3 linked regions of the Homo sapiens genome follow. The protein of the gene in region 1 interacts with the protein of each later gene in a biochemical or structural test. Each region holds a gene or a part of one and is shown in the gene's direction. Other genes may lie near its edges.

Region 1 (7,025 bases):
TTTAGTAGAGACAGGGTTTTGCCACGTTGGCCAGGCTGGTGTGAAACTCCTGACCTCAGGCAGTCCACCTGCCTCGGCCTCCCAAAGTGCTAGGATTACAGGCATGAGCCACTGTGCCCAGCCTGTTTTTAAATAGTAAATATGAATATAAATTATATGCCTAAACTGAGATATGAGTGTTATAATTTTAACATTAATGTAAGATCAGACTGAAGAGTCAGTGCTAATGAACCACATTTTGGTTCTAATTGAGTCTAAGGCAAAAGTAAGAGCTGTTTGCTCATCATAAACCATATACTCAGGAATCTTGGGACTTCCTTTAAAAGTTAAGACAGGCGGAAATGGGGTCGGCTGACTGTACTCTACAGGTTTAGGTCAACTGTATCTGGCTCTCTTCCTTTAAAAAAATTGAAGGTTAATGTTTTTAGATAAAGATCTTTGAACTGACACATTTTTATCGTTATTATTATCGACACATTTTTATCGTTTTATCATTAACAAAAATCTAGGGAAAAAGTGTTCTTTATTTTTCTACAGATGAGTATCTTTATTTTATTCTTGATTTATAGTTTTAGTCTTCTCTGCCAGTGTATTTATCTTGAAAGAAGACTTTCTGCACATCTGCACATTTGAGAGATGCTCCTTTCAGAAGCACCCTTAGGAGTAATCACTGTGTTAGCCACTTGCAGGAAGGCCTTATTGCTTTAAGATGGCAGAGCCATCACATCCTGGCCTCCCGAAGTTGTCATCTTCACCCAAAACTGGGCCTCATGTGTTTCCTTTTCTGCTCTTCTGTTTTACAGGTGTGACTCAGCACTTCTGTAAAATGGATCAAAAATGTGTTAATGCAGGAAGACGGTAGATACAGGAAGGAAGAACCAATAATTAAGGGTTCTTTTATTTGTTTGGAACAAATTCATAGGCAAAGCCTTTTATTGGTAGCTTGAGGAAACTTAAAAGTAGTAGGAAAGGGTATAAAATCTCTTTCTGGGACACGCTAAACTCCTAGTTTTATAACACGTTGTCTGTGATATTTCTCTAGCCCTGAAGCACTTCTGAACATTACTTCAGAACATAAAACCTATGCTTTGTTTTTAAAGGTTTTCGTTGTTATGTAATAGCATCCAGCTGCTAATCCTTTTGAGCAGCACCTGTAATAATAATATGGCAGGAGGAGCCTTCCGTTCGCTGTGTGCAGGTGTCTGCGGGTTACCTCCTGCGGTGGAGCTGCATGAAAACAAGCACACCGTCTCTGTGAATAGCCACAGAAACATCTGAACGTCCTTTGCTTAGCATGCTTCTTTGCACTTGTGAGGGATTCTTTGGGGAGGAGGGTGATCATCTCTGATCCATGGATTTAGCTTCCCTGCCAGCGATGGTATGCGATTTTGACCCAGAGACATGGGGAGCTTGTGCCTTCGTGAAATTTGCGGCAGCGGCAGTGTGTGTTTTATCCATTAACAGAGGCAGCATAGTGGATGAGCTCAGGTTTGAGTTCCTGATCCATACTTAAGCTCTGTGTGCCTCAATTTCTCCATCTGTAAAATGGTGCCTACCTCATTGACTGTAGTGAAATTAAGAGTGTATATGCAGACCATGGAAGAGTTCCTTGCTTGTAGTAAGCACTATGTAAGCATTAACCTGCCATTACTGTTAATATTACTGTTAATGGGCCGGGCGCAGTGGCTCACTCCTGTAATTCCAGCACTTTGGGAGGCCGAGGCGGGCAGATCACGAGGTCAGGAGATCGAGACCATCCTGGCTAACACGGTGAAACCCCTTCTCTGCTAAAAATACAAAAAAATTAGCTGGATGTGGCGGCGTGTGCCTGTAGTCCTAGCTGCTGGGGAGACTGAGGCAGGAGAATGGCGTGAACCCAGGAGGCGGAGCTTGCAGTGAGTGGAGATCACACTACTGCACCCCAGCCTGGTTGACAGCAAGACTCTGTCTCAAAAAAAAAAAAAAAAAAAAATTACTGTTAATGTAACTATTGTTTAACTTTTCCCTGCTATGGGATCACATTCAATTGTAAAACTACTGTTTTTTGTTTTTATTTTTGTTTTTTTGAGATAGAGTTTTGCTCTTGTTGCACAGGCTGCGGTGCAATGGCGCAGTCTGGGCTCACTGCAAACTCCACCTCCTGGGTTCAAGCAATTCTCCTGCCTCAGCCTCCCAAGTAGCTGGGATTACAGGCACCTGCCACCACACCCAGCTAATTTTTGTATTTTTAGTAGAAACGGGATTTCACCGTGTTGGCCAAGCTGGTCTCAAACTCCTGACCTCAGGTGATCTGCCCATCTCAGCCTCCCAAAGTGTTGGGATTACAGTTGTAAGCCACTGCGTCTGGCCTGTAAAACTGAATTTGCTTACCTTTTGGCATTTTCTACCACTGCCTTAATAACTCACCCACCCAAGGATAAAGATAAGAAAATAAAAACATTTTCAGACTTTTCATGTTTTATTGGATATTTCAAACATATGCCAAAATAGAAAGGACATATTTACAGGAAAATGTTATTTTTATTTTATTTATTTATTTGAGACAGGGTTCCACTCACTTGCCCAGGCTGGAGTACTGTGGTGCAATCTTGGCTCACTGCAACCTCCACCTCCCCAGGTTCAAGCAATTCTGCCTCAGCCTCCCAAGTAGCTGGGACTACAGGCACGCGCCATCACACCCAGCTAATTTTTTGTATTTTTTAGTAGGGACAGGGTTTTGCCATGTTGGCCAGGCTGGTCTCGAACTCCTGGCCTTATGTGATCCACCCACCTTGGCCTACCAAAGTGCTGGGATTACAGGTGTGAGCCAAAAATGTTGATTTTTAAAGGCAAAAGAAATGTCATTTGAAATGTGAAAAGTAGAAGTTACACATCTATTGCCTTGAGGTAGCTTTTTAAAATGTTTGTCTTATGCATACACACTGTACATAGTTGTAATTCTAGAAAACATACCATTTTATGGCCTTTCTCTACCCAGCATTCAAGTATAAGCATTTTTTTCATTGAAAACAAATAGTTTTCAATGGTTTTGTACCATAATAATTGTTTCCCTTTTTAAAAAAATTGTAGATAAAACATTGGTGAAAATCTTACTGCAGATAGTTTGGGGGTTATATAGGAAGGTGATTTTTGTTTTGCTTTTTTGATTAGGAGTGTCAGGATTTCTTTCGTGGTACATGAGAACCTTACTATAAAGTGGCTCTTTAGGACCGTTCTGAAGTCAGCCTTATGAAGGTGAAATAGACTCTGATGAAATCACCCCAAGTCTGTGGCTTTTGTTGTAAGGCAGAGCTGCTCTGTGTCAATACCTGGTGTGTGAGAACAGGACGTGGTAGCTGTCATGGGACCCTCTAGCCCATCATTCTCTAGACCTGCACTGTCCAATACAGGATCTACTAGCCATGTGTGGTTATTTAAATTTAATTAGAATTAAATAAACTGAAAATTAATTTCCTTATTCACACTGGCCATATTTTGAGTGCTCAGTAGCCACTTATGGCTAGTGGCTATTGGTTTAGGTGAGCACATATAAAACATTTTTATCACTGCAGAAAGTTCGGTTGAGTAACACAGCTCTAGATTAGTCTCTAACTGCTCAGCTTCTTAACCTTACAGTGATAAGAGCCACCTCTTATAGGTAAGATTTTCTAGAGCAAAGTTGGGCAGACCTTGGGTACTTGTTTTTGTATATGTAGTTTTATAGGAATACAGCCACATCGATTTGTTGACCTATACTTTGGCTGCTTTTGTGTTACAGTGGCAGAGCTGAGTTTTGAGTAGTTATGACAGAGACCATATGTGGCCTGCAAAGCCTAAAAGTATTTGACCCTTTACAAAAAGGTTTGCCTACCGCTTTTATCTAGATCAGGGTTTCTTAACCTCAGCACTGCTGACATTTTGGTCTAGATAATCCTTTGTTGTGGGGCTGTCCTGTGCATTGTGGTGTTTAGCAGCTTCCCTGGCCTTCACCCACCGGATGCCAGTAGCACCGCTTAGATATGACAACCAAAAATGTCTCTAGACATTGCCAAATTCCATGGGGAGCAAAATCACCCTTGGCTGAGAACCACAAATCTCAAGCAATGTGGCTTGGCAAAGCATTCATCTGTAATACTGCAAAGGAGCGCCCATTGTTAAAAGCAAAATTGGTTGAAAGAGCTGACTAAATTAATGAGTAGTTTTTTATGCTACTTAGTATACTTCAGCATTGTCTCCAGAAACAGGAATGTTTTATATAAAACATGACAAAGCAGCTGGAGTGGGGCAGAGACATGGAAGCATTCTCATGTCCTTCCATTTCTCAGGGGTGCTGCAGTTCACTGAGGAGCAGAGTGTGGAAGTTACAGCATATCTGAGCTATGGGGTGTGTGGGTTGTGTTATACCCAGGTTCTCAGGGCCTGCTTTTCTAAAACGCTGGGTAACTGCAGGTGTTTGTTGTTTGCTAACTGTGTGTAGATATCATCTGTGTATGCCTGGCAAGAAAGGAGTTAATAAATGTCACGTCTATAATCCCAGCACTTGGGGAGGCCAAGATGGAAGGATCTCTTGAGTCCAGGAGTTCAAGACCAGCCTGGGCAGCATAAGGAGACCCTGTCTCTATTTAAAAAAAAAAAAATTAGCTGGGTATGGTGGCACATGCCTATAGTCCAATTTACTTGGAAGACTGAGGCTGGGAGGTTGGCTTGAGCCCAAGAGTTTGAAGTTGCAGTGAGGTATGATCACACCTATGCACTCCAACTTGGGCAACAGAGTGAGATCCTCTCTCAAAAAAAAAACTTTTTTAAATAAATAAATGCAGTAGATTGGTGCTTATCTGTCTTATGAATATTTGTAGTCTTATGTGGTCCATATAGATTCCTATCCTCATTACCCAGAATAATTGAAAAATTGGTTATATTTACCTCCATTAGAAGTTGCAAGAATTGAATTAAATGTCAAGTCCTATAAAATTGTGTTCAAGGCTGAGCGCAGTGGTTCACACCTGTAATCCCAGCACTTTGGAAGGCCAAGGCTGGCAGGTCACTTGAGGTTAGGAGTTTGAGACCATCCTGACCAACATGGTGAAACCCCGTCTCTACTAAAAATACAAAAATTAGCCAGGCATGGTGGCAGGTGCCTGTAGTGCCAGCTACTTGGGAGGCTGAGGCAGGAGAATCGCTTGAACATGGAGGCAGAGGTTTCAGTGAGTCAGGATTGCACCACTGCACTCCAGCCTGGGCAATAGAGCAAGACTCTGTCTCAAAAAAAAAAACAAACAAAAAAACCCCACAAAAACTGTCTTCAATTCTTTTAAGACCCAGCATCTGAATACCTTTCAGAGTGGGGGGTTTTGTAAGCTGTAGAAAATGGCTGTGTGAAATAGCCATATAAATAGAGTGAAATAGAATTGGGAAAATTGTCCTTCAAAGTGAATGTCAGGTATATCTTTATCTCGTTCTTCAAATTAAAATTAAAATGTTTAAATTGGTATTGAAATGAATGTGTAATACAAGTCACATGTAATAGAGCACACTCGTATGGAGAATCATCCCCGTGTGAATATCTAAGAAGGTAAGCAGCTTGACTACTGAATGCAAGTGAATTTTAGGTGAACTTGCATTTCCCATGTGTGACATGTTTGTTTGGTTTTTCAGATCTTACCAATATATTTGAGTCCTTCCTGCCTCAGTTATTGGCCTATCCTAACCCCATAGATCCTCTCAATGGTGACGCTGCAGCCATGTACCTCCACCGACCAGAAGAATACAAGCAGAAAATTAAAGGTAAGAGGATGGGTAGTTTAACCTGGAGACAAAAGAACTTAAATCTGTTGGGCTTCAGTCATTAAAAGTCCTTCTTAAATTACTTAGTTCCTAATACTTTTTCTTAGGCCTAAAAAGAGACAGCTGTGGGCTGAAGTAGTGCTCACCAACCTCGGGTGGCAGTAGCACCAGTTTGCTCATCCTTTGCGATTTAGAATCCTATTTTCCCATCCTTAAAACAGTTTACGTGCTGATGGGATATGAGTTTCATTTAAATGAAGATAAGTTTGCGACTGGCCGTGGTGGCTCACGCCTGTAATCCCAGCACTTTGGTAGCCCGAGGCAGGCGGATCACAAGGTCAGGAGATCGAGACCAGCCTGGCCAACATGGTGAAACCCCATCTCTACTAAAAATACAAAAATTAGCCTGGTGTGGTGGCACGCGCCTGTAGTCCCAGCTACTCGGGAGGCTGAGGCAAGAGAATCGCCTGAACCAGGAAGCAGAGGTTGCAGTGAGCCTAGACTGTGCCATTGTACTCCAGCCTGGGTGACAGAGCAAGATTCTGTCTTTAAAAAAGAAAAAAAATCTAAAGCTCCACCTGGGTTCATTGGATTTTCCATTTTACCTCTGTGTATGTTTCAGAACTTTCATAGTGAAAAGTCTAGATACATGAAGCTCCACCAAGAAGCAAAGGAATTCAAAGTTTGTGAAATATACCTGCTGCTTTTAACCAATGGCAGGCATTAGTATCTAGCCAGTTTTTCACATGATGGGCCTATCTGCATAGCAGTCCAGAATGTTTGCTTCCTCAAAATGTGTGGCCTCTCTGAGGTACATTTGCAAGAGGTGGCAGTAGAAGTAATTTACCAGAGCTTGAATGTGCAGGTCTTCACTCTGAAATGTGCAGGTATGAGGCAAACAGGGACTATTCATGAAACAATAGCTTTTCTTCTATTTGTTTTCTAATTCTTCTTCCAAGGTCTCTATAGGGTATTGTTTGGAGCTGTTGTTGAGATAAAGCAGAAATAAATTTACTATAATTAATTAGATCTCAAGTGCTTTGCAAATTAATATCTAATTTATGTAGCAAAATATATAGCTAAGCAAACATGTATTTGAAGAAAAAGGCAGTCAGTTTCAGCCAGATAAAGTGCTGTTATGAGACTATATTAAAATTTTGACATAGGAATCACTTAGCAATGTCTGCAAACCACAGATATCTTGGAGCAGAGTATATTTCTCTAGTTCACATATGCATTCTGTCTCAACAATTTAGCAGTAG
Region 2 (6,875 bases), on another chromosome or scaffold:
CAGTAGTCATTCAGGGGCAGGTTGTTCAGTTTCCATGTAGTTGAGTGGTTTTGAGTGAGTTTCTTAATCCTGAGTTCTAGTTTGATTGCACTGTGGTCTGAGAGACAGTTTGTTATAATTTCTGTTCTTTCACATTTGCTGAGGAGAGCTTTACTTCCAACTATGTGGTCAATTTTGGAATAGGTGAGGTGTGGTGCTGAAAAGAATGTATATTCTGTTGATTTGGGTTGGAGAGTTCTGTAGATGTCTATTAGGTCCGCTTGGTGCAGAGCTGAGTTCAATTCCTGGATATCCTTGTTAACTTTCTGTCTCGTTGATCTGTCTAATGTTGACAGTGGGGTGTTAAAACTTTCCCATTATTACTGTGTGGGTGTCTAAGTCTCTTTGTAGGTCACTAAGGACTTGTTTTATGAATCTGGGTGCTCCTGTATTGGGTGCATATATATTTAGGATAGTTAGCTCTTCTTGTTGAATTGATCCCTTTACCATTATGTAATGGCCTTCTTTGTCTCCTTTGATCTTTGTTGGTTTAAAATCTGTTTTATCAGAGACTAGGATTGCAACCTCTGCCTTTTTTTGTTTTCCGTTTGCTTGGTAGATCTTCCTCCATCCCTTTATTTTGAGCCTATGTGTGTCTCTACACGTGAGATGGGTTTCCTGAATACAGCACAGTAATGGGTCTTGACTCTTTATCCAATTTGCCAGTCTGTGTCTTTTAATTGGAGCATTTAGTCCATTTACTTTTAAGGTTAATATTGTTATGTGTGAATTTGATCCTGTCATTATGATGTTAGCTGGTTATTTTGCACGTTAGTTGATGTAGTTTCTTCCTAGCCTTGATGGTCTTTACAATTTGGCATGTTTTTGAGTGGCTGGTGCCAGTTGTTCCTTTCCATGTTTAGTGCTTCCTTCAGGAGCTCTTTTAGGGCAGGCCTGGTGGTGACAAAATCTCTCAGCATTTGCTTGTCTGTAAAGGATTTTATTTCTCCTTCACTTACAAAGCTTAGTTTGGCTGGATATGAAATTCTGGGTTGAAAATTCTTTTCTTTAAGAATGTTGAATATTGGCCCCCACTCTTTTCTGGCTTGTAGAGTTTCTGCCGAGAGATCAGCTGTTAGTCTGATGGGCTTCCCTTTGTGGGTAACCCAACCTTTGTACTCTTTCTATCGCCTTCTTAAAACTGGAAGGGTGAGTGAGATAGGGCAACAGTAGCCATCTCCATGTCATCTAGATTAGTTAGATTAGGGATAACACAAAGGAAAAATTAAAATTTTCTCTATCTATCTTAGTCCTTTTACTATTTCTATGGCTTTAATATACTCGAAAGTTCTGCAACCAGCACCATAGTCAATTTTAGAATATTTTCATTATCCTAAAAATAAATCATTGAATCCACTGCTTCCTCCCGTTTACCCATTCCTACCCCAGCTCTTGGCATGCACTGCTCTACTTTCTGTCTCTATAGATTTATCTCCTCTGGGCATTCCATACAACTGTCATCATGTAATATATGGTTCTTTGTGACTGGCTTCTTAGTATAATTTTTTTCTTTTCTTTTTTTTTTTTTTTGAGACAAGGTCTCACTGTATCACCTAGGCTGGAGTGCAGTGGCGCCATACCGGCTCACTGTAGCCTCAACCTTCTGGGCTCAAGCGATCCTCCCAACTCAGCCTCCTGAGTAGCTGGGACCACAGGCATGAGCCACCACACCCGGCTAAGTTTTGAGTTTTTTGTAGGGATGTGGTTTTGCCATGTTGCCCAGGCTGGTCTGGAACTCCTGGGCTCAAGCGATTCACCCACCTTGGCCCCCCAAAGTGCTGGTGTTATAGGCGCGAACCACCACACCTGGCCTACTTAGCATAACTTTTTAAAGGTTCGTCCATATTGTGGCATGTGTCAGTACTTTATTTCTTTTTATTGCTGAATATGATTCCGTTGAATGGATATAGCTTATTTGATTTATCCGTTTATCATTTGATGGACGTTTAGGTTATTTCCACCTTTTGGCTATCATGAGTAATGTGATAGAAACATTCATGGACAAGTTTTCATATGAGGAGATGTTTGCATTTCTCTTTGGTGTATATACCCTAGGATTGAAGTTGTTGGGTCATATGATAACATGTTTAACCTTTTGAGAAAGAGCCAGACTATTTTTCAAAACGACTGCATAGATCCTCACTAGCAGTATATGAGGGTTTCAGTGTCACAACATCCTTGCTAACACTTGTTTGTCTTTTATTATGAACATAATTAAAGTAATATCTAATAGTTTTGATTTGTATTTCCATGATGGCTAATGATGTTGATTAACCCATTTTTCATTGGGTTATTTGTCTTTATTATTATTATTATTATTATTATTATTATTATTATTATTATTATTTTGGTAGAGATGGGGCCTCGCTATGTTTCACACACTGGTTTTGAACTCCTGGCCTGAAGCAGTCCTCCCACCTCAGCCTCCGAAAATGCTGAGATGATAGGCGTGAGCTACTTGCACCTGGCCTTGCCCTTATGTTACTGAGTTGTAAGAGAGTTGTTTATATATTCTAGATACAAGTCCCTTATTACATATATGATTTGCAAACTTTTTCTTCTGTCAGTTGTCTTTAGACTTTTTTTTTTTTAACATTTATAAATAGAGGTAGAGTATTGCTATATTGCCCAGGCCTTTCTTGAGTTCTGGCCTCAAGAGATTCTCTTGCCTTGGCCTCCCAAAGTTCTGGGATTATAGGTGTGAACCATTATGACTGGCTGTGTTTTCCCTTTCTCAGTGGTGTCTTTTGAAGCACAAAAGTTTTTATTCTGATGATGTGTAGTTTGTCTGTTTTTCCTTTTGTGTGAGGAAGAGATCCAAATTTCTTTTGCATGTGGCTATCTAGTTGTCCCAGCACCATTTGTTGAAAACAGTACTCTTTCCCCAAGAAGTGATCTTGGCACCCTTCTTGAAAATCAGCTGACTATAGATACGTGGGTTTATTTCTGGGCCCTAAATTCTATTCCATTGATATATCTATTCATATTCCAGTATGACACAGTCTTGATTACTGTTCCTTTGTTGTAAGTTTTGCAATCTGGAAATGTGAGCTCTCCAACTTTGTTCTTTTTCAAGGTTGTTTTGGCAGATCTGAGTCCCTTGAATTTTATATAAATTTTCAGATCAGCTTGTCAAATTTCTGTAAAGAAGTCAGCTCAGTTTTTGATAGAGATTGCTTTGACTCTCTATGTCAACTTGGGAAGAATTGCCATTTTAACAATATTAAATCTTCTGATCCATGAACATGGACATCCATTTCCAATTTCTTCAACAACCAGCTTTGGCAGTATCTCTTCTAGATGTGAATGTTCATGTTAGGTGGGCTGTATTTTGCAAGTTAGCATTAGTCAAATTGAAGCCCTCATGCCTGGATTGTGAGGCATAGTGCTGAGGTTTAACTGTTATTCTGTGTAAAGATTAATTTAGTTGATATAAAAGATGTTTGGAAATTATGCAAAGAAAATAATGTAATATATGATTTGTATTTTTCATGTAAATCTTCACATAAAAAATGGCATGGCCTGTTTTATCGTTTGTTTGTAAACTCATTTTTATCCTAAATATGTGTGGCATAGGAGGGAGATTGTTTCAGGCAAACTTATAGGTCTGTTGCTTTGTTGTGGTGGTACATATCAAAAGACTAACTTCAATGACAGTGAGGAGGGATGTCCTTCAAAACTGTAAAAAATTTGAGACCCTCTTGCATCTGTGTTTCTGTGCCATAAATAGCCCTTCTCAGGCTTGTCATGGGCATGTACCAATGATGTAATAATGATGATTATATCAGAAGCACCACAGGTAGCTTTTGGCATGGTAGGTATAGGGCTGTGGATATCGTCAGTTTGACCAAGTATTCCAAGAGGCCCCATGGAGTTTGTCATCTGTAATAGAGGACGTTAGTGCATTAGTGATGAAAAAACTGCTTACCACTGACTATTGTGATCTCCCAGGGAGTATAAGGCAGCTCCGCAGTAAGTGCCTCTTGTTTTGTGTGACGTGCTTGAATACAAACATTCAGACTGTTTCTTGGGCACAGTAGTGCTCCATCTTATGCCAGCCTCATCAAAGGCTTGAAATAGAGTAGGTGGTGTGTGATACCTAGACACTAACATCCCCTATTCTATTTTCCTTTTTTTGTTGTTATTATCAATGGTCACTCACTTACTGTAAAACTAGACTTTATAAACAGATTATTATTTTAGCTAATTTTCTTCTATGTGTTGATCCCTCCCAGTTTTTGTTCCTTTTTGTTGTTCATTGATTCTAGAGTTGTGTGAAGGAAGCCATTTCGTGATTCCTGGTGCTCCTCTGCTTGCTTAGTGACACTACTAAGAATTGGCACCAGCCTTACAAACACCTGCCTTTGATCCAGAGTAGAGTTTGGGGAGAGGTAGAGTAAGTGACTGCTTATCAAATGTGACCTTGGGGTTGTCAGGCCCTGTTGTTTACCCTACCTTTTCCTACTGCCTCACCTGTCCCCACCCCCTACCCCAGCACATGGTTAATAAATGAAAATCTCCAAATTCGAGATTCATTCTTTTGGTTGAAGGCTTCCATTTTCTGTTAAAATTTGAACAACATGAAACATTTTACTACATTAAACCTTCTGGATAATTTACGTTTAATTGGTTTTGTATACAGAGTGGGATAGATCTCAGTGGGTAAGTGGGGAGAAAGAACAACACACAATTCAATTATTAGACATTTTGGGGGATGCGTAAGAGAAAACCAGAAACAGGGCAGGAGTACCTGGAATCACTGAAGACAGTTTATGCATACACTGTTATTTTACCTAAAGGCAGCCTTTCTCATGGTTCTTAGGCATGTCATGGTGACCCTTCATATTCCCTAGGAAACCCTTTACGGCAGTGTTTGGCAAACTATAGTCTGGTGGGCCAAATCTAGCCTGCTGCCTATTTTTGTAAATAAAGTTTTATTGGAACATAACTATGCTCATTCATGTACATACTCTTTTTTTTTTGGTGGGGGGGAGGTTGGGGGGTTGGAGTCTCGCTGTGTTACCCAGGCTGGAGTGCAGTGGTGCGATCTTGGCTCACTGCGAGCTCCGCCTCCTGGGTTTGTGCCATTCTCCTGCCTCAGCCTCCTGAGTAGCTGCGACTACAGGCGCCCGCCACCATGCCTGGCTAATTTTTTGTATTTTTAGTAGAGACAGGGTTTCACCGTGTTAGCCAGGGTGGTCTCGATCTCCTGACCTCGTGATTTGCCCGCCTTGGCCTCCCAAAGTGCTGGGATTACAGGCATGAGCCACCGCACCCGGCCCATTTACATGCTCTCTATGGGTGCTTTCATGCTACAGTGGCAGAGTTAATTAGCTGGAACACACTTGGACCACAGTGCCTAAAATATGTATCTTGCCCTTTATAGGAATAGTTTGCCAACAGCTCGTGTAGAGTCTCTACTTTTGGAAGGTTAAGTATGGATCATAGATACCTTGAGTTTAATTTGGACTTCCTAACCTCTGATCTCACCATTATGTGGACTCACAGACAGTGGTTTTAAGGAAAGATCACTGCTTATTTCAGGACAAATGCTTGGTCATGATAAAAAAAAAAGTTTAACTTCAAAAATATTCTTAAAATAAATGGTGGCACTGCTTTGTTTTAATCCTAAGTAGCCAATGGAAGATTATATCTCTGATTATACATGTACGTGATCCACCTGCCTCTTTCAGGTGCTCCCATCTTATTATGAGAAATGTTAGAATTTTCCCCTTAGACATTCATCTTCTATTGTTTTTGAAGACCAAACATTTATGTTGCCGTAACTTATTTAAATATACATATGAATATAAGTATAAAATGTTAAGCTCACTCTTGGAAATTTAAAGTGTTTTAGCTGAGTTATGTTTATTCTCTCTTCATTTTCTCTCAGCTTGAAATCCATGGCCCAAAATGACTCTACCAGTGGAGACTCTCTTCTGTGAAGAAGACGACCAGATAAGAGGTTGGGATGAGCATGCCACTGCATCAGATCTCTGCCATTCCATCCCAGGATGCCATCTCTGCTAGAGTCTACAGAAGTAAGACCAAAGAAAAGGAGAGGGAAGAACAGGTACTGGGAGAGTATCTTTTTTAGTTTCATTATTTTTATTAAATTTTTATTAAAGATGACCTAGAACAGTGCTTAAACTCTAAAGGTCAGGTTTTCTCTGATAATATACTGACAAGCACACAAATAGTTGTACTCAGAAGGAATTGTCTTTTTGTAGATTTCTAGGTTTTCAGATTTTGGTGTAAACTACTGTTTATAAATGGTTATAAATGACTTATCTTCATTGGTTAAATCTACCTGATTATTTTTGGTTAATCACTGTGACTAAGTTCTTTGGATTCTCAGAACATGATGCTGCTAGTTTCCTATTCATCGTAGTGTGAAATTTGGACACCAGATGGCTGGAATTTCTTAATATGTGTCTTAGTCTGCCCTAGCTGCTGTAACAAAATGCCATAGCCTGGGTGGTTTAAATAACAAGCATTTATTTCTCACAGTTCTGGAGGCTGGAAATCTGAGATCAGGGTGCCAGCATGGTTGGATTCTGGTGAGGTCTTACTTCCTGACTTATAAACAGCTGCCTTCTTGCTGTGTCCTCACATGGCATAGAGGGAGGAAGGAAGCAAGCTGTCATGTGGCTGTTCATATAGAAGGACTGATCCCATGGAGAGGGTTCCACCCCTAGGACCTAATTGTCTCCCCAAGGCCCCACCTCCAAATACCATTACATTATGGATTAGAGTTCTGGCATAAAAGTTTTGTGGGAAACATAAACATTTAGTCCATAATAGTGTGTACATGGGGAAGCTATACAAACTTGTTT
Region 3 (7,025 bases), on another chromosome or scaffold:
GTCCCGGGAAGGAGACTGATCTGGCAGCTCCTATTCAACCCTGTGGCTCCTGCTGGGAGGGGACTCTGCAAACACCGCCTAGAGGGTCCCCCAGTTTCCCCTGGGAGAGTGGGGGCGCCAAATTGTTGAGGTGGGGATTGCTGTTCCCAATCTGCAGAGGAGGAAACAGGTTGCAAGTCATTGAGGCAGGAATGGAACTGATTCCATGGTCAGGCACCTCCCAGCAAAGAAGTGGCTTTGTAGCCTGGCATGGTTGCTCATGCTTGTAGTGCCAGCTACTCGGGAGGCTGAAGCAAAAGGATTGCTTGAGCCTAGGAGTTCGAGTTGTGATTCTGCCACTGCACTCCAGCCTAGGCAATCCTGTCTCCAAAAAAAAAAAAAAAAAAAAAAAAAATGGCTTTGGCAGGAGTATTGGGAGCTCTCCTATATTTGCATATTTGCATTTGAGGTCTTGGGTAAGATCTAGACCACAGAATGGTTGGTCTGTGCAGGGGACATTTTTTTTTTTTTTTTTGAAATGCAGTCTTGCTCTGTCGCCCAGGCTAGAGTGCAGTGGCACATTCTTGGCTCACTGCAACCTCCGCCTCCCTGGTTCAAGTGATTCTCCTGCCTCAGCCTCCCGAGTAGCTGGGATTACAGGCACTTGCCACAGCGCCCAGGTAATTTTTGTATTTTTAGTAGAAATGGGGTTTCACTATCTTGGTCTGGCTGGCCTTGAACTCCTGACCTCGTGATCCACCCGCCCTGGCCTCCCAAAGTGCTGGGATTACAGGTGTGAGCCACCACGCCCGGCCAGCAGGGGACATTTTAATTAAATTTCCTGCCCCCTACTCCAAGCCCATGTGTGTACAGGCAGGCTGACTTGGTGGTCAGGCTGACAGGCTGACTGAGGCTGATGTTCTGCTTTTAAGTAAGAGAGGAAGCCCAGGAGTAGGGGTAGGTTGCCTTTCTTCTTTCATATATCCTTCATGTACCCCCTGAGGTCTGTTGTGTGCCAAGCTCTGTGCCTGCCTGTCTGGTGGGAGAGACCAAACCACACTGATGTTTGTCATCCTCGCAAAGACCTGTGCTATGGGGCTGACTGCTGAGCAGAGGGGATCAGGGAAGGCAAGGCCAGGGAGGGGTCAACAAAACAGACAAGGGGCTGGGGGTGTGGCGGTTCATGCCTGTAATCCCAGCATGCTGGGAGGCTGAGGTGGGAGGATTGCTTGAGGCCAGGAGTTGGAGACCAGTCTGGGCAATATAGTGAGATTGTCTCTACAAAAATATTTTAAAAAATCATGGCCAGGAGTGGTGGCTCATGTCTAATCCCAGCACTTCGGGAGGCTGACGTGGGTGGATCACCTGAGGTCAGAAGTTTGAGACCAGCCTGGCCAACATGGTGAAACCCTGTCTCTACTAAAAATACCAAAATTAGCCAGGCGTGGTGGTGCACCAAAATTAGTCCCAGCTACTTGGGAGGCTGAGGCAGGAGAATCGCTTGAACCCAGGAGGTGGAGGTTGCAGTGAGCTGAGATTGTGCCACTGCACTGCATCCTGGGTGACAGAGCGAGACTCCAACTCAAAAAAAAAAAAATCAGAAAATTTGCTGGGCACGGTGGTGTGTGCCTATAGTTCCAGCTACTTGGGAGACTGAAGTGAGAGGGTCAATTAAGCCTGGGAAGTTGAAGCTGTAGTTAACTGTGATCATGCCACTGCTCCAGCCAGGGCAACAGTGTGAGACCCTGTCTCAAAACAAAACACCAAAATAAATAAATAAAAAACCGCACCAAAATAGACAAGGGGCAGGGGAAGCATTCGGACCTCAGGAGTAGCACTGGCTGGGGCTGGGAGGCATGTAAGTGGGTTTGGGGATGGGAAGATGGCTGGAGGAGGAGCTGGCATTGAGGTTGAGCCACAGAGGGCAGGTTTAGGATGGGAGGTGTGGGTTTTGGGTGGGTGGCATCCCCATCACTTCTCCATGCCTCGACCCCCAGACACAGCTGCCACAGCAGAAACTGCAGCTGCAGGAGGCATGCATGCGCAAGGAGAAGAGTGTGGCTGTGCTGGAGCATCAGCTGGTGGAGGTGGAGGTGAGGACTTCACAGGGCCATGTCTGAGGGCTGGGGGCCAGGCTAGGGGTCTCCAGCCAAGAGTCTTTATCCCTTCAATCACTGCCCCATCCCTGCAGGAGACAGTGCGTCAGTTCCGGGGGGCCGTGGGGGAGCAGCTGGGCAAGATGCGGGTGTTCCTGGCTGCACTGGAGGGCTCCTTGGACCGCGAGGCAGAGCGTGTACGGGGTGAGGCAGGGGTCGCCTTGCGCCGGGAGCTGGGGAGCCTGAACTCTTACCTGGAGCAGCTGCGGCAGATGGAGAAGGTCCTGGAGGAGGTGGCGGACAAGCCGCAGACTGAGTTCCTCATGGTGAGCACTGGGTGACCCCCCTCCCTGCCTCAGCCCCCTGCTCAGGGCCCAGAGACCTCATCCCATTGTCAGATAGGCCCAGAGAGGGGCAGGGATAAGCCAGCAGCACACAGCCGGGAGGGGCAGGCCTCAGGACTGCTATATGGTTGTTTAGGTTGAGCACTGCATAAGGACATTGTATTAAGTGAGCACTATTCATATCATAGACATTGTAGGTTTATATATTTATTAGGACACTCTTATTTTTATTTTTTATTTTTTGAGATGGAGTCTTACTCTGTCACCCAGGCTGGAGTGCAGTGGCAGGATCTTGGCTCACTGCAAGCTCCGCCTCCTGGGTTCATGCTATTCTCCTGCCTCAGCCTCCCGAGTAGCTGGGACTACAGGCACCCGCCACCACGCCTGGCTAATTTTTTCTATTTTTCAGTAGAGACAGGGTTTCACCGTGTTAGCCAGGATGGTCTTGATCTCCTGACCTTGTGATCCACCTGCCTTAGCCTCCCAAAGTGCTGGGATTACAGGCGTGAGCCACCGCGCCTGGTCTTTTTTTTAAAGGCAGGGTCTCACTCTGTCACCCAGGCTGGAGTGCAGTGGCATGATCATAGCTCACTGCAGCCTTGTAGGCTCAAGCAATCCTCCAATCTCAGCCTCCCATAGCTGGGACTACAGGCGCTTACCTGGCTAGTTTTTGTATTTTTAGTAGAGATGGGGGTCTCATTATGTTGCCCAGACTGGTCTCAAATGCCTGGGCTCAAACAATCTGCCTGCCTTGGCCTCCCAAAGTGCTGGGATTACAGGCATGAGTCACCGCACCCGGCCTATTAGGACAGTTTTCTAACAGGTGGAATCAGAGTTTCTTGGAGGCAAAGATACCTTTTTGTAATCCACATAAAAGTGAAGGGGTAGGGGTGGCCTTGAGTTCTAGGTCTCTTTTGCGTTTTTTTTTTTTTTTTTTTTTTTTTTTTTTGAGACAGGGCTTTGCTCTGTTGCCCAGGCTGGAGTGCAGTGGCATGACTTCGGCTCACTGAAACCTCCTTCTCCCGGGTTCAAGTGATTTTCGTGGCTCAGCCTCCCAAGTAGCTGGGATTACAGGTGCCTGCCACCATGCCCAGCTATTTTTTTTGTATTTTTAGTAGAGATGGGGTTTCACCATGTTGGCCAGGCTGGTCTCGAACTCCTGGCCTCAAGCAATCCACACACCTTGGCCTCCCAAAGTGTTGAGATTACAGGCATGAGCCACCTCGTCTGGCCTCTTTTAGCTTTTCTGATTCTTTCTGACGTTGCACTCAGCATTCCTAGTTGTCTACCCCATCCTCAAAAGTTTCCAGTGTCCCCACCATCGGCTTCACCACCATTCTCTTTTTCTCTCTCTCCAGAAATACTGCCTGGTGACCAGCAGGTGAGAGCAACCTGGCCCTGTCCCTTTGCCCGACTTGTCCCAGTCTTCTAGGGACACCAGCCGGCTCACTCTCCACTCACTATTGTGCCTGCACACCCGCAATTCAGTCTGCTGCCCCACCCCTGCCTGAACACAAGGTTGTAGACAGAAATGATCTGGAAGGATCCTTTCACTCAGGGACCTCCTAGATTGGTGCCGTGAGACACATGTGGGTGGGGACACAGGCGTCACTGTGTGCTCAGTGTGGCCGTTGAGGGAAAGAGGTGGCCAGGGATGGAGTGAATGTTTGAGTTGGGGCCTGGAGGGATGAACAGGAGCTGGCTAGGCAAAGCGTTGGGAGAAGAAGGGCATTGTGAGGAGAAAGGCATTGCGGGGAGAAGGGCATTGCTGAGAGAAGAAGGGTATTGCTGGGAGAAGAACATTGCTGGGAAAAGAAGGGCATTGCTGGGAGAAGGGCATTATGGGGAGAAGGGCATTGCGGGGAGAAGGGCACTGCTGGGAGAAGGGCATTGCTGGGAGAAGGGCATTTCTGGGAGAAGAAGGACATTGCTGGGAGAAGAAGGGCATTGCTGGGAGAAGGGCATTATGGGGAGAAGGGCATTGCAGGGAGAAGGGCATTGTGGGGAGAAGGGCATTGTGGGGAGAAGGGCACTGCGGGGAGAAGGGCATTGCTGGGGAGAAGGGCATTGGGAGAAGGGCATTGCTGGGAGAAGGGCATTGCTGGGAGAAGAAGGGCATTGCTAGGAGAAGGGCATTGCTGGGAGAAGAAGGGCATTGTGGGGAGAAGGGCATTGCGGGGAGAAAGGCATTGCTGGGAGAAGAAGCGCACTGTGGGGAGAAGGGCATTGCTGGGAGAAGGGCATTGCTGGGAGAAGGGCATTGCGGGGAGAAGGGTATTGCTGGGAGAAGAAGGGCATTGCAGAGAGAAGGGCATTGTGGGGAGAAGGGCATTGCAGGGAAAAGGGCGTTGCTGGGAGAAGGGTGTTGCTGGCAGAAGGGTGTTGCTGGGAGAAGGGCATTGCTGGGAGAAGGGTGTTGCTGGGAGAATGGCATTGCTGGGAGAGGGGACAGCCAGCGAGAGGGCTGGCGAGTGGGAGGGAAGAGGAAGCTGCGGTAGTAGGTGTGTGCACACTGGCGAAGCTGAGAGGCTTGGACCTTATCCCAACAGAAGGATTAAAAGAAAATGTAGTTGGGCCGGGTGCAGTGGCTCACGCCTGTCATCCAAGCACTTTGGGAGGCTGAGGCGGGCAGATCACCTGAGGTCAGCAGTTCGAGACTAGCCTGGCCAACATGGCAAAACCTCACCTCTACTAAAAACACAAAAATTAGCCAGGCATGGTGGTAGGCGCCTATAATCCCAGCTACTTGGTTGGCTGAGGCAGGAGAATTGCTTGAACTGGGGAGGCAGAGGCTGCAGTGAGCCAAGATCATGCCACTACACCCCAGCCTGGGTGATAGAGCCAGACTCAATCTCAAAAAAAAAAAAAAAAGACCAAAACCAAATAAACAGTGGTAAAATAATACATGTAACATAAAATTGACAATTTTCAGCTTCTTCTTCTTCTTTTTTTTTTTTTTTTAGACAGGATCTTGCTATGTTGCCCAGACTGGACTCAAATTTCTGAGCTCCAGTGAGCCTCCTGAGTCAGCCTCCCTGAGCAGCTGGGACTACACTCTACCTCGCTCATTTTAAGCATTTTTAAGTGTGCATTTAAATTCAGTGGTGCTAAGTACATTCACATTGTACAACCATCACCAGTGTTTATCTCCAGAATTTTCTCATCTTCCCAAACCAAAACTCCAAAGGAAGAGTTTTAAGCAGGGGTGCGATGTGGGGAGATCCTGGAATCCCCCCAGCCCTTGTCCTCCCCCCTCACACATGCCTCCCCTTCCCCTCCCCACCCCCAGGCTGCAGAAGATCCTGGCAGAGTCTCCCCCACCCGCCCGTCTGGACATCCAGCTGCCAATTATCTCAGATGACTTCAAATTCCAGGTGTGGAGGAAGATGTTCCGGGCTCTGATGCCAGGTACCGGGAGGGACTGGCTCAGGTTTGTGTGTGACCAGGCAGTTGATGGGAGGCCCTAGCCACCCTGGAGAGGCCTCCCAGTCCCAACTGGGGAGGCCACTGAAGGAGGTACCCATTGCCCCTTTGCCTCTGGACTGCCGCTGCAGTCCTCTAACCTGTGTTGGGAGGAGGGCCTTTGAGAGCATGGGGTTTGCAGTGGGTGACTGACATGAAAATGCTGCTGCTGTTGGTGGCACGGGACGCTGGGGCCTAGGTCTGAGCCACTGACTTGCTGTGTGATCCTTGGTCAGTCTCTGCCCCTCTCTGGACGGTGGAGATGATAAATCCTGCCAATTGGGGACTGAGGCTCTGCAGAGCTCCTGGAACCCTGGGGACTGGCCTGGGTCAGAGAGTGACTCTGGCGGCCTGTGGCTGGGGAGGCCCAAGGGCTCAGTTCCTCCCCCCAAGAGCTGGATGATGCAGGTTACAGAGCTCTGGGACATACACATTGCTGGGGCAGCCCTTCCTGCCTCAGCGCAGGTGGGAATGCAGACAGCCTCATTTTATTCAAGATAAAACTAAGGCTCAGAGACTGGGTCTAGGCTGATGTGAAGATCAGGCTCCTTGACCTTGGGCCTTGGGCCTTGTCTGGGCCTCAGATGGTGAGTCCCATGCCTTGTATCAATTTAGTCCTGTTGGCCAGGCTCGGTGGCTCACGCTTGTAATCCCAGAACTTTGGGAGGCCGAGGTGGGAGGATCACTTGAGCCCAGGAGTTGGAGACCAGCCTGGGCAACATAGTGAGAACACCTGTCTCTACAAAAACTTAAAAAAATTAGCCAGGTGTGGTGGCACGTGGCTGTAGTCCCAGCTACTTGGGAGATGGGAGATGGGAGGATTGCTTGAGCCTGGGAGTTGGAAGTTGCAGTGAGCCTAGGTTGCACCTGCGCTCCAGCCTGGGCGACAGAGTGAGACCCCGCCTCAAAAAAACAAAAAACAAAAACAAAAAACAACAACAATAACAACAACAAAAACAAAAAGAAAATGCAGGCCTGCCTGCAACCCTGGAGGGAAGCAATCATGGCCTCATCTCACAGCTGGGCAAACTGAAGTTGAGCCAGGTGTGATCTTGTGGCCCAAGCCCAGTGAGCAGAGATGCCAAGAGGATTAGGGGAGAGAAAGCTGGCCTGCAATTGGTTGGGAGAAGACCCCAGCGAGGCA

Evidence for each region. Proteins that work in one complex are often made in the same cells at the same time.
Region 2: the proteins of UBE2H (region 1) and MARCHF8 form a complex in vitro, tested with the Homo sapiens proteins (2 studies listed by BioGRID).
Region 3: the proteins of UBE2H (region 1) and TRIM72 form a complex in vitro, tested with the Homo sapiens proteins (2 studies listed by BioGRID).

Annotation. Positions count from the first base shown.
Region 1 is NC_000007.14:129,837,945-129,844,969, reverse strand, and holds part of UBE2H (ubiquitin-conjugating enzyme E2 H), read left to right. Parts: intron 1-5,634; coding exon 5,635-5,763; intron 5,764-7,025. UniProt on the Homo sapiens protein: Accepts ubiquitin from the E1 complex and catalyzes its covalent attachment to other proteins. E2 ubiquitin conjugating enzyme that transfers ubiquitin to MAEA, a core component of the CTLH E3 ubiquitin-protein ligase complex.
Region 2 is NC_000010.11:45,532,347-45,539,221, reverse strand, and holds the start of MARCHF8 (E3 ubiquitin-protein ligase MARCHF8), read left to right. Parts: upstream 1-3,850; 5' UTR 3,851-4,011; intron 4,012-4,051; exon of another isoform or gene 4,052-4,120; intron 4,121-5,932; 5' UTR 5,933-6,010; coding exon 6,011-6,112; intron 6,113-6,875. UniProt on the Homo sapiens protein: E3 ubiquitin-protein ligase that plays several important roles in innate immunity and adaptive immunity.
Region 3 is NC_000016.10:31,217,119-31,224,143, forward strand, and holds part of TRIM72 (tripartite motif-containing protein 72), read left to right. Parts: exon of another isoform or gene 1-17; intron 18-1,976; coding exon 1,977-2,072; intron 2,073-2,170; coding exon 2,171-2,401; intron 2,402-3,777; coding exon 3,778-3,800; intron 3,801-5,708; coding exon 5,709-5,827; intron 5,828-7,025. UniProt on the Homo sapiens protein: Muscle-specific E3 ubiquitin-protein ligase that plays a central role in cell membrane repair by nucleating the assembly of the repair machinery at injury sites.